2 separate regions of the Homo sapiens genome follow, and region 1 is linked to region 2. Evidence: fine-mapped expression QTL. Tissue or cell type: lung. Region 2 holds a variant in brackets; the other region holds the start of a gene. All regions are shown on one strand. Distances are between the middles of the regions.

Region 1 (5,500 bases), 110 kb after region 2:
ACACCACACCACACACACCACACCACACACCACACACCCAGCCTTCCTAGGAAACTTCTATTCATGCTTCAGCCATCATTTCACCAGTGCCACTTCTTCAGGAAAGCCTTTCCTAAAGATCACCCTCTCTGACTTCAGCAGGCCTCCCTGCTATATTCAAGCACCATGTATTTTCCTTTCATAAGTACACATCATCAATTTGAATTTTGTGTTCATTTGCGCATCATTTATTTATGTTAATCTCCCCACTACACACCATCAGTTCCATGAGAACAGGGTCTGCGGTGACCTCCCACATTTTTCTAGCACTTAACACAAAGCTTGGCACACAGAAGATAAGTATTCAACAAAAGAAAAGCATTTACCAAAAGCTGACAATGCGCCAGGACCTCCGTAAATAAGAGTTTGGCATTGTGTTATGTGCTTCTGCAGGAGTGAGTCTCACCTTTAAAAACCTTAGAGTCTAACGGGAAACACAACACATACAGAAGTCACCATCTGACACTGCAGACGGTCAGCAACGCCTAGACAGAGTGCCCTGTGAGTTCTGAGAAGGTGGAGATCAACTGACTCTTGATGATGACAATCCAAAAAGACTTTACAAAGGAGCAGTGGCTTAAGGGTACCCAGACTCCAAAGTGCCAGTTCTAACAAAAAAATTGGGTGTTGGCTGTTACTTTTTGGGCCCAGAAGCCTGGCCTAAGGCAAAGTCTACAACAGGTCTGTAAATCATTCTTTCATTCATTTATTCATTGCTCAGGTTTTTATTAAATACCTAGTAGGTGCTAGGCACTAGTCTAGATACTGAAAATCAACGAACATATCAGCAAGCTGACATTCCTTCTAAAGAGGCCCCCTATAGCAACAAAGTGTTAACCAGTGTCCTCCTCACTCCTCTGTGACCAGGGCCACCGTGTCACCTCCTCTAACGGAGGCTACACCTTATCGTTTAACAAATGACCTTCATCTTCCCAGCATCTCCCTTAGTTTGGCTTCCGGGTTGCATATGGAGTTCAATGTCCCGTGGCTGCTAACCAAGGCAAATTGCAACTGTTGCAAATTTTGCTTATGAAAACCGAAGGGGACCTTCAAAGATCATCTGGTACAACCCCTTCATCTTATAGATGTGGAAACTAAGGCCTAGAGAAAAGACCCTCAGCCAAGGTCACCCAGAGAACTAACCACGCATAGAACCAGATCAGAGTCCAGGAGTCCTGCCTCCCAGGCCTGGGCGCTTTCGATTTTTCAAAGACATTTCCCATTTTCCTATTATCAGGACCCACAATCCTAGAAACAGTCTTTGGGATTCAGGGCTCCTCAGTATTGAGGAAGAGTTCATTATCTGTATTGAAATCGGTTGTAGTAATACAAACAACAATAACATTTTAGAGCCCTAACTAAACATCAGTAGCAGTGAGAAAAAGAAAAATAGCTCAGAGCAGATTGTGTGAGTTACAGTGAAATATGCAAAATCAATCAAGCCCAGAGAGACAAGAGTATAGGACTTTAGTGGTCCCCTCCTCACCCAACCCATTCCTGGGAGCAACTGGTTAAAGGCATTTTGTTCCTGACCAGCTGCCTTACCCATTATCTTCAAGTTCCTGGAATTTGTGATACAAAGAACAATGTACAGACAATCAATAGTTTATGTTATTTTAATATAAATTCTTGGTAAACAACTTAGGAAGTGCTTCTTATTCTCCTTTAAAAACCCACTTTCGACTTCTGCTCATCAGAATGTATACTCAGGGCACCTTCACTCCCAGGATGCAGCCCTCAAACTTGGCTCGAATGAACTCTCTTTTTATATTGATTTTGCCTCAGTTTCTTCATTTAGGTCACAACTGTGCTAAGCACTTTACACAAGTTACCTCATTTGGATCCTCACAACAACTCTATGAGTCGGTACTATTATTTTCCCCATTTTACAGATTAGCAAACTAAGGCACAAAGAGAGTAAGCAACCTGCACGATGTCCCACAGCTGTTTAATAAGGAGCAGCGGATGGGGCAGCAGAACCATCATGCTGAGTAAACCAGGATGACTGCCCAATGGCCTCCCCTCGCTTTTAAGGGGTCAGTGATGAACCGGAAAGCTCCACACGTCGGTCATCTGCAACTCCACGGAGCTCACGAGCTGGGATTCCCGGAGGCTCTTCCTAAAAGGAAAGCCTCTTCTTTCAGCTGGGGCAGGTGTGAACGTGATGCCAAGCACGGCCCCTTTTCCCGCTCCCTGTAAAGGGAGTCTTCGAGGAAATCCCTCTCGACCCACACATCCCTGAAGCAAAGCCCGCAGCTGGAAAGAGACACTGGCGGTGCCAGCTTCCGCGTGGATGAAGGAGAGGAGAGAGGGGCAAGCAGCGGAGGCAGCGCGGGATACGGAAGGTGGAAGCGGGGCGGTACCTTTCGGAGAAAGCTGGCGACCACCTGCTCGAAGGGGTACTTGTACACCTGGTGCACATCCACCGAGACCCCCATCCCCGCGCGCCGCGGGCCCCGCGCACCGGCCACGCCTCCGCGAGCTCAGAGCTGCCCAGGGCTCCGCAGAGGCCCGGAGGCGCCCACACTCGGACAGCCACATGGGCGTGGCCTTTTTCCTCCGCTTTTCAAACTTTCGAAACTTTATTGGCCACTCGGAGAAACGCGCAGTCGGCCACGCCCACGCCCCTACTGCCAGAGTCCGGGGCCTGGGGTTACAGAGCGCGGGAGGCGCTGGAGCGCTCCCAGAGCACCCGGGGCCCCGCGGTCTCCACGCTGGCGGCGCCAGAGCGGCCCTGGTGCCCTCCCGCGGCCGCGCCTGCCGAGAAAAGCTTCTCTGCCTGGGAGCCATCACGCCCCGCCCCAGGAAACCTGGACCTTGGGCTTATGCGTTTATGGTATCACCGCCTGGAGTCACAGAATAAGCCGTGGTTGGCAGCACGGGAAAAAAGTATTAATAAGGAAGGCCTGGTGTGACAAAGGCCAGCATTACTCATGCCACCAGGCAGCTGCCTCTGAGGCTTGGGTTTGGGCCTCGTGTAAGGTAAAGATTGCCTCGGGAATAAGAACCGCGTTTTAGTGCACCAAAACCTGCAGGTAAGTTCCTTTGCTCGCTAAGGTTAAACACCACGGAGCAAGGAACTAGAGGATACAAAAGAGTTGCGAGTATTATTATTTACTGCAACCAACAGATGTTAGGAGAACCAGCACGTTAATCCGTGTATTCAGCACGGTTCTGAGGCCTCCTATGCCCCAGCGCTGTAGTGGGCACTGCGGATTCCGCAGGGAGGAAACACCAGCTCTGCTGATGAGCCGGCTGATTTCACACCCAATCAACAAGCTGGGAAAATAAAAACAATAATCGGTTAAAGTGACACGGGCGCGGACATGATTTTAGTGAGGGTGATTATGGAGGGTCTCTGAGGTGATGACTTTTACGATTTTGCCATCTCGCTCGCCCCTGCCATACGCAGTCACACTGGTCTGGCAAAACCCTAGCCTTGTGTAAATCTAGGTCTCCTCTGACTGTCTCTACCCAAGCCACCAGAAGGGGCTGAAGGAAAATACACACCCACTGTGCATCTTTTAAGTTCATAACCACTAACCCTATGGCGCCTTTTAATGGTGCCAGACAAATACACTATGAAAGTACTGTATTTCTGGCTGGGTGCGGTGACTCACGCCTGTAATCCCAGCACTTTGGGAGGCCAAGGTGGGCGGATCGCCTGAGGTCCGGAGTTCCAGACCAGCCTGGCCAACATGGTGAAACCCTGTCCCTACTAAAAATACAAAAATTAGCCAGGCGTGATGGCGGGCGCCTGTAGTCCCAGCTACTCCGGAGGCTGAGGCAGGAGAATCGCTTGAACCCGGGAGACGGAGGTTGCAGTGAGCAGAGCTCGCCCATTGCACTCCAGCCTAGGCGACAAGAGCAAGACTCCATCTCAAAAAAAAAAAAAAAAGAGAGTACTGAATTTCTCTAATCCACTTACTCTCCCGCATTCCTCCACACCTCTGACACCTTTGTTCCCAGCCTTATACTCCAGTCATTACCTTACTTCCATTTTCACTTAGTCAATAGGTCACATCGCTCTGCCACCTCTCTACCCACCAGACCAAATGCCTTGCCTTCACTCTTGTTCCTGTGGGTGAACTGTCAGCACTTTGTTTTAGCACCAGTGTCTCCATTTGTCCACTGAATCCTGAGGTGAACTGAAAAATGTTTAACAAATAGCTGTCCTTTAAAGTATAAATCAAGCAAGGCCCTGATTTCCAAAGGTTGCTGATTCCTGTGGTGTAAATACTCCTACCATGTTTAAAGATGCCAACTCGATGTCACTAAACACAAGTTGGGGATTTAGCAACATGGAGTTGAGTGAGGAGTGGGAGTTGGGGAGGGAAGCACAGAAGCACACCATCACATAGTATTTCCACCACCCACATACGACAGCCATAAAGAACCAAAAACATAAATAATGGAAAATGTAGCAGGAAGGGATGAGTTTTCAATGTTTATTACTCTTTGGCCAGGCTCCTATGGTTCATGCCTGTAACCTCAGCACTTTGGGAGGCCAAGGCAGAAGGATCACTTGAGGCCAAGAGTTTGAGGCCAGTGTAGGCAACATAGTGAAACCCCATCTCTACAAAAAATAAAATAAAAAATTAGCCAGGTGTGGCAGTGCACACCTGTAGTCCTAGCTACTTGAGAGGCTAAGGCCAGAGGCTCTATTAAATCCGGAAGTTCAAGGCTGTAGTGAACTATGATCGTGCCATGCACTCCAGCCTGGGCCACAGAGTGAGACCCATCTCAAATAAATAAATATTTATTAATTTTTATATGTGATTGTAAATTTATATACTTTAATAATAGCTGTGTTGAATGGCCAGCTCTAGTACATCACTAAAAGTTCCTGTCCTCTTTCTTGTTCAAGGCCATCTCTCTAGCAATATCCCCCTTCCTTTCTGTATCATCAGCTTTTGTCTCTACTGGGCCATTCCAGCCAGCACAACAAGTACACTGTAATTTCTTCCATCTAAAAACAAAAACAGAAACAATACAAAAAAAACAACTCTTAACCCCCTATCTTCCTCCAGCTGTATTCCGAGTCTCTGGTCCACTGATGCTCCTCAAAAGAGCTGCCTGTAATCTCTTGAGCCCATTCCAATCAGTATTTGCCCCCACCACTTCACCGAAACGACTGTTGTCAAGGTCACCAATGACCAAATTGCTAAATCCAATAATTAATTCTTAATCCCCACCTTACTAAGCCTGTAAGCAGCATTTCCTTGAAATACAGAGGGAGGAGTGGAGAGGAGAATGAGATGCAAATGCTCTTACATGTGTTGGATGCATGTTTAAAAGCCACTCCACTATATCACCAATCCCTCCTTACAGGAAAACAAAAAGCAGTCTTCCAGGGAGACTACACAGGTCCACAAAGGAGAGATCAATTACCTGCAGAGTTTATGGTATTTTGTATCTGCCTCTTTTACCAGAGTAGCTGGAGACCAGATGTGACATACAA
Region 2 (6,219 bases):
TAGAAACCAGTATCAAATTAATAATTTTTTTTTGAGACAGAGTCTCACTCTGTGTCACCCAGGCTGGAATGCAGTGGCACAATCTTGGCTCACTGCAGCCTCCACCTCCTGGGTTCAAGCGATTCTCCTGCCTCAGCCTCCTGAGTAGCTGGGACTACAGGCACAGCACTACAATGCCCAGCTAATTTTTGTATTTTTGTTAGAGACGGGGTTTCACCATGTTGGCCAAGCTGATCTTGATCTCCTGTTCTAAGCTGATCCGCCCACCTCGGCCTCCCAAAGTGCTGGGATTACAGGTGTGAGCCACCACACCCGGCCCCAAATTAATAATTTATTTTAAAAAATACAGTTTACCAACATTGACTAAAGTAGAGTTTAGAAAACTTAAACCAACTTTTATAGAAAAAACATTGTATCAAGGCTATACCCCCCAAAAAGGTACCAGGAGCAGAAGTTTTCACAAGGAAATTTGACCAAACTATCAATAACCAGAGAGACCCGATGTTACAAAAATTGTTTCAAAACATAAAACATGAAGGAAAATTGTCAAAAATCATTGTATGAAGCAAGTATAATATTGATACCTAAATTTGATTGTCAAAAATTTAAATAAAATTACAGACCAATATAGCTTATAAATACTAATGCAAAAATAGTAAATATTTACAAGCAAATAGAATTCATCACCATACTGTGAAAATAATACATAATGACCAAGCAGAGTTTATTCCAGGAATGCAATGTATCATAAATATAAGAAATTCATGAATATAAAGTAAGCACACAAACACACCATGATTCTGTAGCCACAGTTTTATTTTATACAAAAACACTACAGAAACGTGCAAGACTTGTACCAAATATCCTATTGGGTGCACAGACCAGGACTATTCAATGTAGAGAGGTCTGTACAAAGGAGTAATTACATGGAGATGGGATTATTGAGACCATTTTGGAACGTTTGCAAAACGTATCACAGATAAAAAGCTATTATCTTTAATATATTTAACAACTTAAAAGGGGGAAATAACTAAAGCCTTAATAAAACAATGAGTTAAAGGCACAAGCCAAAAATTCATTAAAAAGGCATACAATAGTCCTTAATCATATGAAACTATTTTAATTTTACTCATAATAAAAGAAATGCAAATAAAATGACACTGAGATACCATTTCTCTTCTATCACATTGGCAAAAAGTTTAAAAGCTTGGCAACACATTCTGTTGGCAAGGCTTGTGAGGCACTCTCATTCATTGCTGGTGGGAATGTAAATGACACAACTCTTACGTTGGGGGAATTTGGCAATCTCTAACAAATTGTATGTGCATTTTTCTTACAACTCAGCAATCTCAAATCTAGAAACTTACCCTGAATATATATCTCCAACAATAAGAAAAGACATTTGCATTAGGTTATTCATAGCAGCCTTATTTATAAATGCAAAATATTGGAAGTGACCTAAATATCTATATATAAAAGATTGATCAAGTAAATTCTGATGCATACACACAATGGAATGCTATGCATTTGTAATAAAGAATAAAGGATAGCTCTATGAGCTAATATGAAATAAGTTCAGCATATATTGATAAGTGACAAATGCAACATGCAAATATACATATATTTCAAACATGTCTATGTAAAAGTAGTTAATTACAAAGGGAAAAATGGTTATCGGCAGACTCGCCTTAACCAAGTGACCTAGGTTAACAGCTTCAGTAACGGTATAAATTGGTATCATGGTCCCCTTGATATGATGTTCTGAGACCACAATATTATCTTTATATTTCTGCCAAAAAATTATGATCATAAAAAAATCAGACAAACCTAAACTTAGAAGCCATCTACAAAATAAAACGTTAAAGACATGAAAAATAAAGAATCCTGAGGGTCTGAGATAATGAAAGGAAACAAAAGAGGCTTAAGCAGAATCCTGAATTGAAGGGAGAAATATCAATCTATAATACCAATATTAAGGTGATTGGCAAAAGTTGAACATAGATAATGGATTAGATAATAATACTGAATCAATGTTAAACATCCTGATTCCATACTTATACTTTTGTTATTCCTCGTTGATGTTTTTAGGGAAAACACTGAAATAACAAGAAGTAAATAAATATATATATATATATATATATATATATATATATATATATATATATAATGCCTGTAACTTACTTGCAAACAGTTCTTTAAAAGTATAAAAAATGAATGTATGTGTATACATATTACATATATAATATATATAATATAAAATATTATATATTATATATATATGTAACAGGGTCTTGTTTTGTCACTCAGGCTGGAGTGAAGTGGCATGATCATGGTACACCATAGCCTTGACCTCCAGGCTCAAGCAATCCTCCCACCTCAGCCTCCAGAGTAGCTGAGACCACAGATGCACACCACTAAGCCTAGCTAATTTTTTAAATTTTTGTAGAAA[T/C]GAGGTCTCACTATGTTACTTAGGCTGGTCTCATACTCCTGGACCAAAATGATCCTCCCACATCAGCCTCCCAACGTGCTGGGATTAGAGGTATGAACCACCACTCCCAGCCAACAAATACTTTTTAAATGTGGATCTCTGTTTGACAATAATATGAACAAAGTAAAGTACTTGAAATGTCTAAAATTCATAAGTTATTGACTGTATGTGAAAGGAATTCAAAGCAACAAGAAAAGAGCAATCCCAGTAGAATAAAAGACAAAAGCAATTTACAGAGGAGGAAACCCCAAAAGTTATCAAACATAATAAGGTGCTCAGAATCATCGTTAATTTGATAAATTCACATTTAAAAAACAATGAGACAGCACTTCACCTCTAACTCACAAACATTAGAAGTCTGAATAATTCTTGGAGTTGGTAGAAATGTAGGGATGTAAACCTTTAAGCATTGCTAACAGGTATACATGGAATAGAAACCAGTATAGCCATTCCAGATAACAAATGAGCACTACTTCATTAACTTAAATATATGTCTGCTGTTAAAAAATAAAAAAGTCACTGGATATATTTAAAATGACAAGAAAGACCTTATTCAATACTATTGCAATAGCACAGAGAGGCTGAATTCAACTCCACTGAAACAAAAGGCAGTAAGATTCTTAAACGCTGGGAGGAGCTAATAGAAAACTACTAGAGAGTACTAAAGGACATCAGTGTAGGGAGGGTGGCCAATGTGATTAGGTCATCTGTGTTTGCTAATTGTCACTTTCCAAGGGTAGGCTTTTCAAGAGTAGGCTTCTACCCTCCCATAGAGACTGAGAAATGTGGTTCTATTGCCTTCAATGATTATATCTCAACAGGCTGACTCCAAGATCCTTGAGCAAGACTTTTCTGGGTTGTAGAAGATTTACATATTCTATAGGGAAAAACTTGATAATTAGAATTAAGAATTTAAACAGAAAGAATTTACACGTGGGTGCAGTAGCTTATGCCTGTAATTCCAGCACTTTGGTAGGCCAAGGCAGGTAGATCACTTGAGCCCAGGAGTTTGAGACCAGCTAGGGCAACATAGTGAGACCCTGTGTCTACAAAAAAAATTTTTTTTAATAGCCAGAGTAGTCTCAGCTACTCCAGAGGCTGAGGTGGGAGGATTGCTTGAGCCCACGAGATGGAGGTTGCAGTGAACCCTGATCCTGCCACTGCACTCTAGCCTGGCTGACAGAGCAAGACACTATCTCAGAAAAGAAAGAAAGAGCAAAAGAGAAAGAAAGAGCGAAAGAGAGAAGAAAGGAAGGAAGGAAGGAAGGAGGGAGGGAGGGAGGGAGGGACGGAGGGGGAAAGAGAGAAAGAGACAGAAAGAAAGAAAGAAAAAGAAAGAGAGAGAGAGAGAAAGAGAGAAAGAGAAAGAAAAGGGAAAGAAAGAATTTACAATTGCATATTTTCTCAAGTAAATACTCTAAGCAAAAGGAGGTCAGGGATCTATAGTCAGGGAGAAATCAGTCTAAATTTTAGTCAAGCTGAGAAGAACATTAAGTCTGTCTTGGTCAATGCCTATTAGCAATTTAATTCCTGGAGATGGATGAATAGATGGATAAGTAGATGATTAACAGATGGATGGATAGATATGTAGACAGATAGGCGAATATGTACAAGTATGTTCACTGGCACTATTTTTAGGACCAGGATCAGGAAGTTGGAGTCCACCAAGGTGCCTATCTCTGGGAGAATGGATAGGCAAAGTATGATGGATATACAATTATGTAGGTTAAATATAAATTGCCTTGCATCAGTTCCCTCAGCCCAGTTCTGACACCAGCTGTAGCTTTTCACACTGACAGCTTTCCACCTCAACCTTCTGTAGCATGTCTATTAACTTTTCACACTTTGAACTTTCACTCAAACTGTGGGAGCTTGCTCTGCCCACACAAATTGTACACTAGCTCTTGAAGCTTCTGTCTGGAAGTAAATTATAACATTTCATTGTGGTAGCGTGATCAGACCCAACACCAGGTCATTGGGGTGATGAAGTCCAGTGGAGTCAAAGGAATGAGAAAAGACAGTTTGAGAGATAAAGTGGGTCCAGGGGGCCAACGTGAGTATGGAGGCTGTGAAGGCCCAGAGTTCTGGAAGCCCAGACTATTTATTGGTGATCAAACAAAGAAACAGGTGGTGAGAATGTGGGGTTGAAAGGGAGCACTGCGTTAAGCACCTGATTTACAGTTGTGATGGTTTAGCATTTATATGGCCAATTCCAAGACACAATCAATCTAGGAGACTGGGAGGGCTAGAAGCAAGGAGCCAGCAAGTCTAGACACACTCCAAAGCCATGAGGGGGTTCATGCCCTGAGCCCTGGATTCTATCCAACCCACGAGGGGTTTTATGCCCTGGGCTTAGATTATGGTGCGTCAGGGTAGCCTTCCACCCTTTAGCACAGAGCTTGGTGTTCCAAAGGCCATGAGGGGTTTTAGACCCTGGACCCTGGACATGTTTCAAGACTCTTTTACATTATGTCAGACATGCAAGCCCTGCCTCAGCTTCTCCCAATACTCAGCTTTCCTCTCAACATGCCCCCCTTTTCTTTTTCATAAAACCACCACAGCTATCATTGCTTGTTCTTGATGACGGCTTTCTCTTCAGAGGCAGCTTCCTCTTCAGAGGTGGCTTCTGCATCTGTAAACTAAAAGGAGACAGCACAAGCACACAACCACCAGAACAAAATCCACAAATGTAGAGCCTCCAATGGCCTTCAACTGTAAATCTTTTGGAACGGGATAAGAGTTTTTAAGGATCTCAGTTACAATACAAATAGATGGTGATGTCTCCCATGGTCTATTTAGAGACACAGGGATCCAAACTCCTTCCCTGGCTTTAATTATCAAGACAGTTTGATTTTTATCAAAGGTTGAATCAAGGCAGGTAAACAAGCAACATTCAGGGCATGTAATAAAGTGTGTATTTATATCAAGAGTAACATTTCCTATTGCTAGCACAACTGTGAATCCAAAAGGTCCCACTGGAGAGAAAAGAAAGAGCATTTTTATCCTTACCTCCCTCCCCTCTGTTCATTTTATACTTTCCCTCTCAGATTTTGACTGGACTTTGAGCCATAGCTAATTTCCATAATTCAGAATATTCCTGTCTGTCCCTGCAAATCTCTGCTAGTCTTTGCTAGTCTCTACGTTTGTACCTCTTTAGGGCACTGACCAGTACCTCTCTAGAGCACTGACCGTATATTGCTAGTCTTTGCTTTTGTACATCTTTAGGGCACTGATCAGTATCTCTTTAGGGCACTGACCTTATATTGTTAGTCTTCATCTATCCCTGCCTGTCCCTGTCTGTCCCTATGATACCTGTTAGTTCCTGTGAGTTCCTGCAAGTCCCTGTCTATCTATCTCTATTTATCTCTATCTCTACTTACTTATCTCTACATCTTCCTGGAAACCTTTTTTATGGCCCTGGGTAGAGCTCAGAAATCCACACTTCAAGCTTCAGCAAGAGACAAAACAGGGACCCCGGATCTGGAACCAGATTGAAGGGAACAGGAAGTGTTCTCCCCTCCCAAAGCAGGAAAACCAGAGTTTGGTCCTTGCAAATTTCTACTCCACATCAGCATCATCCTCAATTTCCTGGAATGAATTGTTGATCATGGCAATTAACACATTTAGCAAAACAATGACCACTGTAACATTATAGACTCCATAACGAACATAACCAATATTTTCAATGAATTTGTGGTTATAGTTGATGACCACTGATTTCACTTCAGCAA

Evidence for each region. PIP is the estimated chance that this variant, and not a neighbour inherited with it, causes the effect. A credible set is the group of variants that fine-mapping cannot tell apart.
Region 1: it holds the start of PRELID2, and the variant in region 2 is the best candidate, but not a certain one, in a credible set for the expression of PRELID2 in lung (TOPMed, PIP 0.67).

Annotation. Positions count from the first base shown.
Region 1 is chr5:145,832,775-145,838,274 of GRCh38, forward strand. It overlaps PRELID2 (PRELI domain containing 2), which reads right to left and starts at 2,568. Exons shown (of 7, transcript NM_205846.3): 1 at 2,403-2,568. The coding sequence starts at 2,477. RefSeq lists a silencer at 2,760-2,879.
Region 2 is chr5:145,722,482-145,728,700 of GRCh38, forward strand. It overlaps a transcript of PRELID2 not described here. Among named protein-coding and RNA genes, the nearest start is that of PRELID2, 110 kb to the right of the region's middle. The variant T/C (reference allele first, on the strand shown) is at 2,450.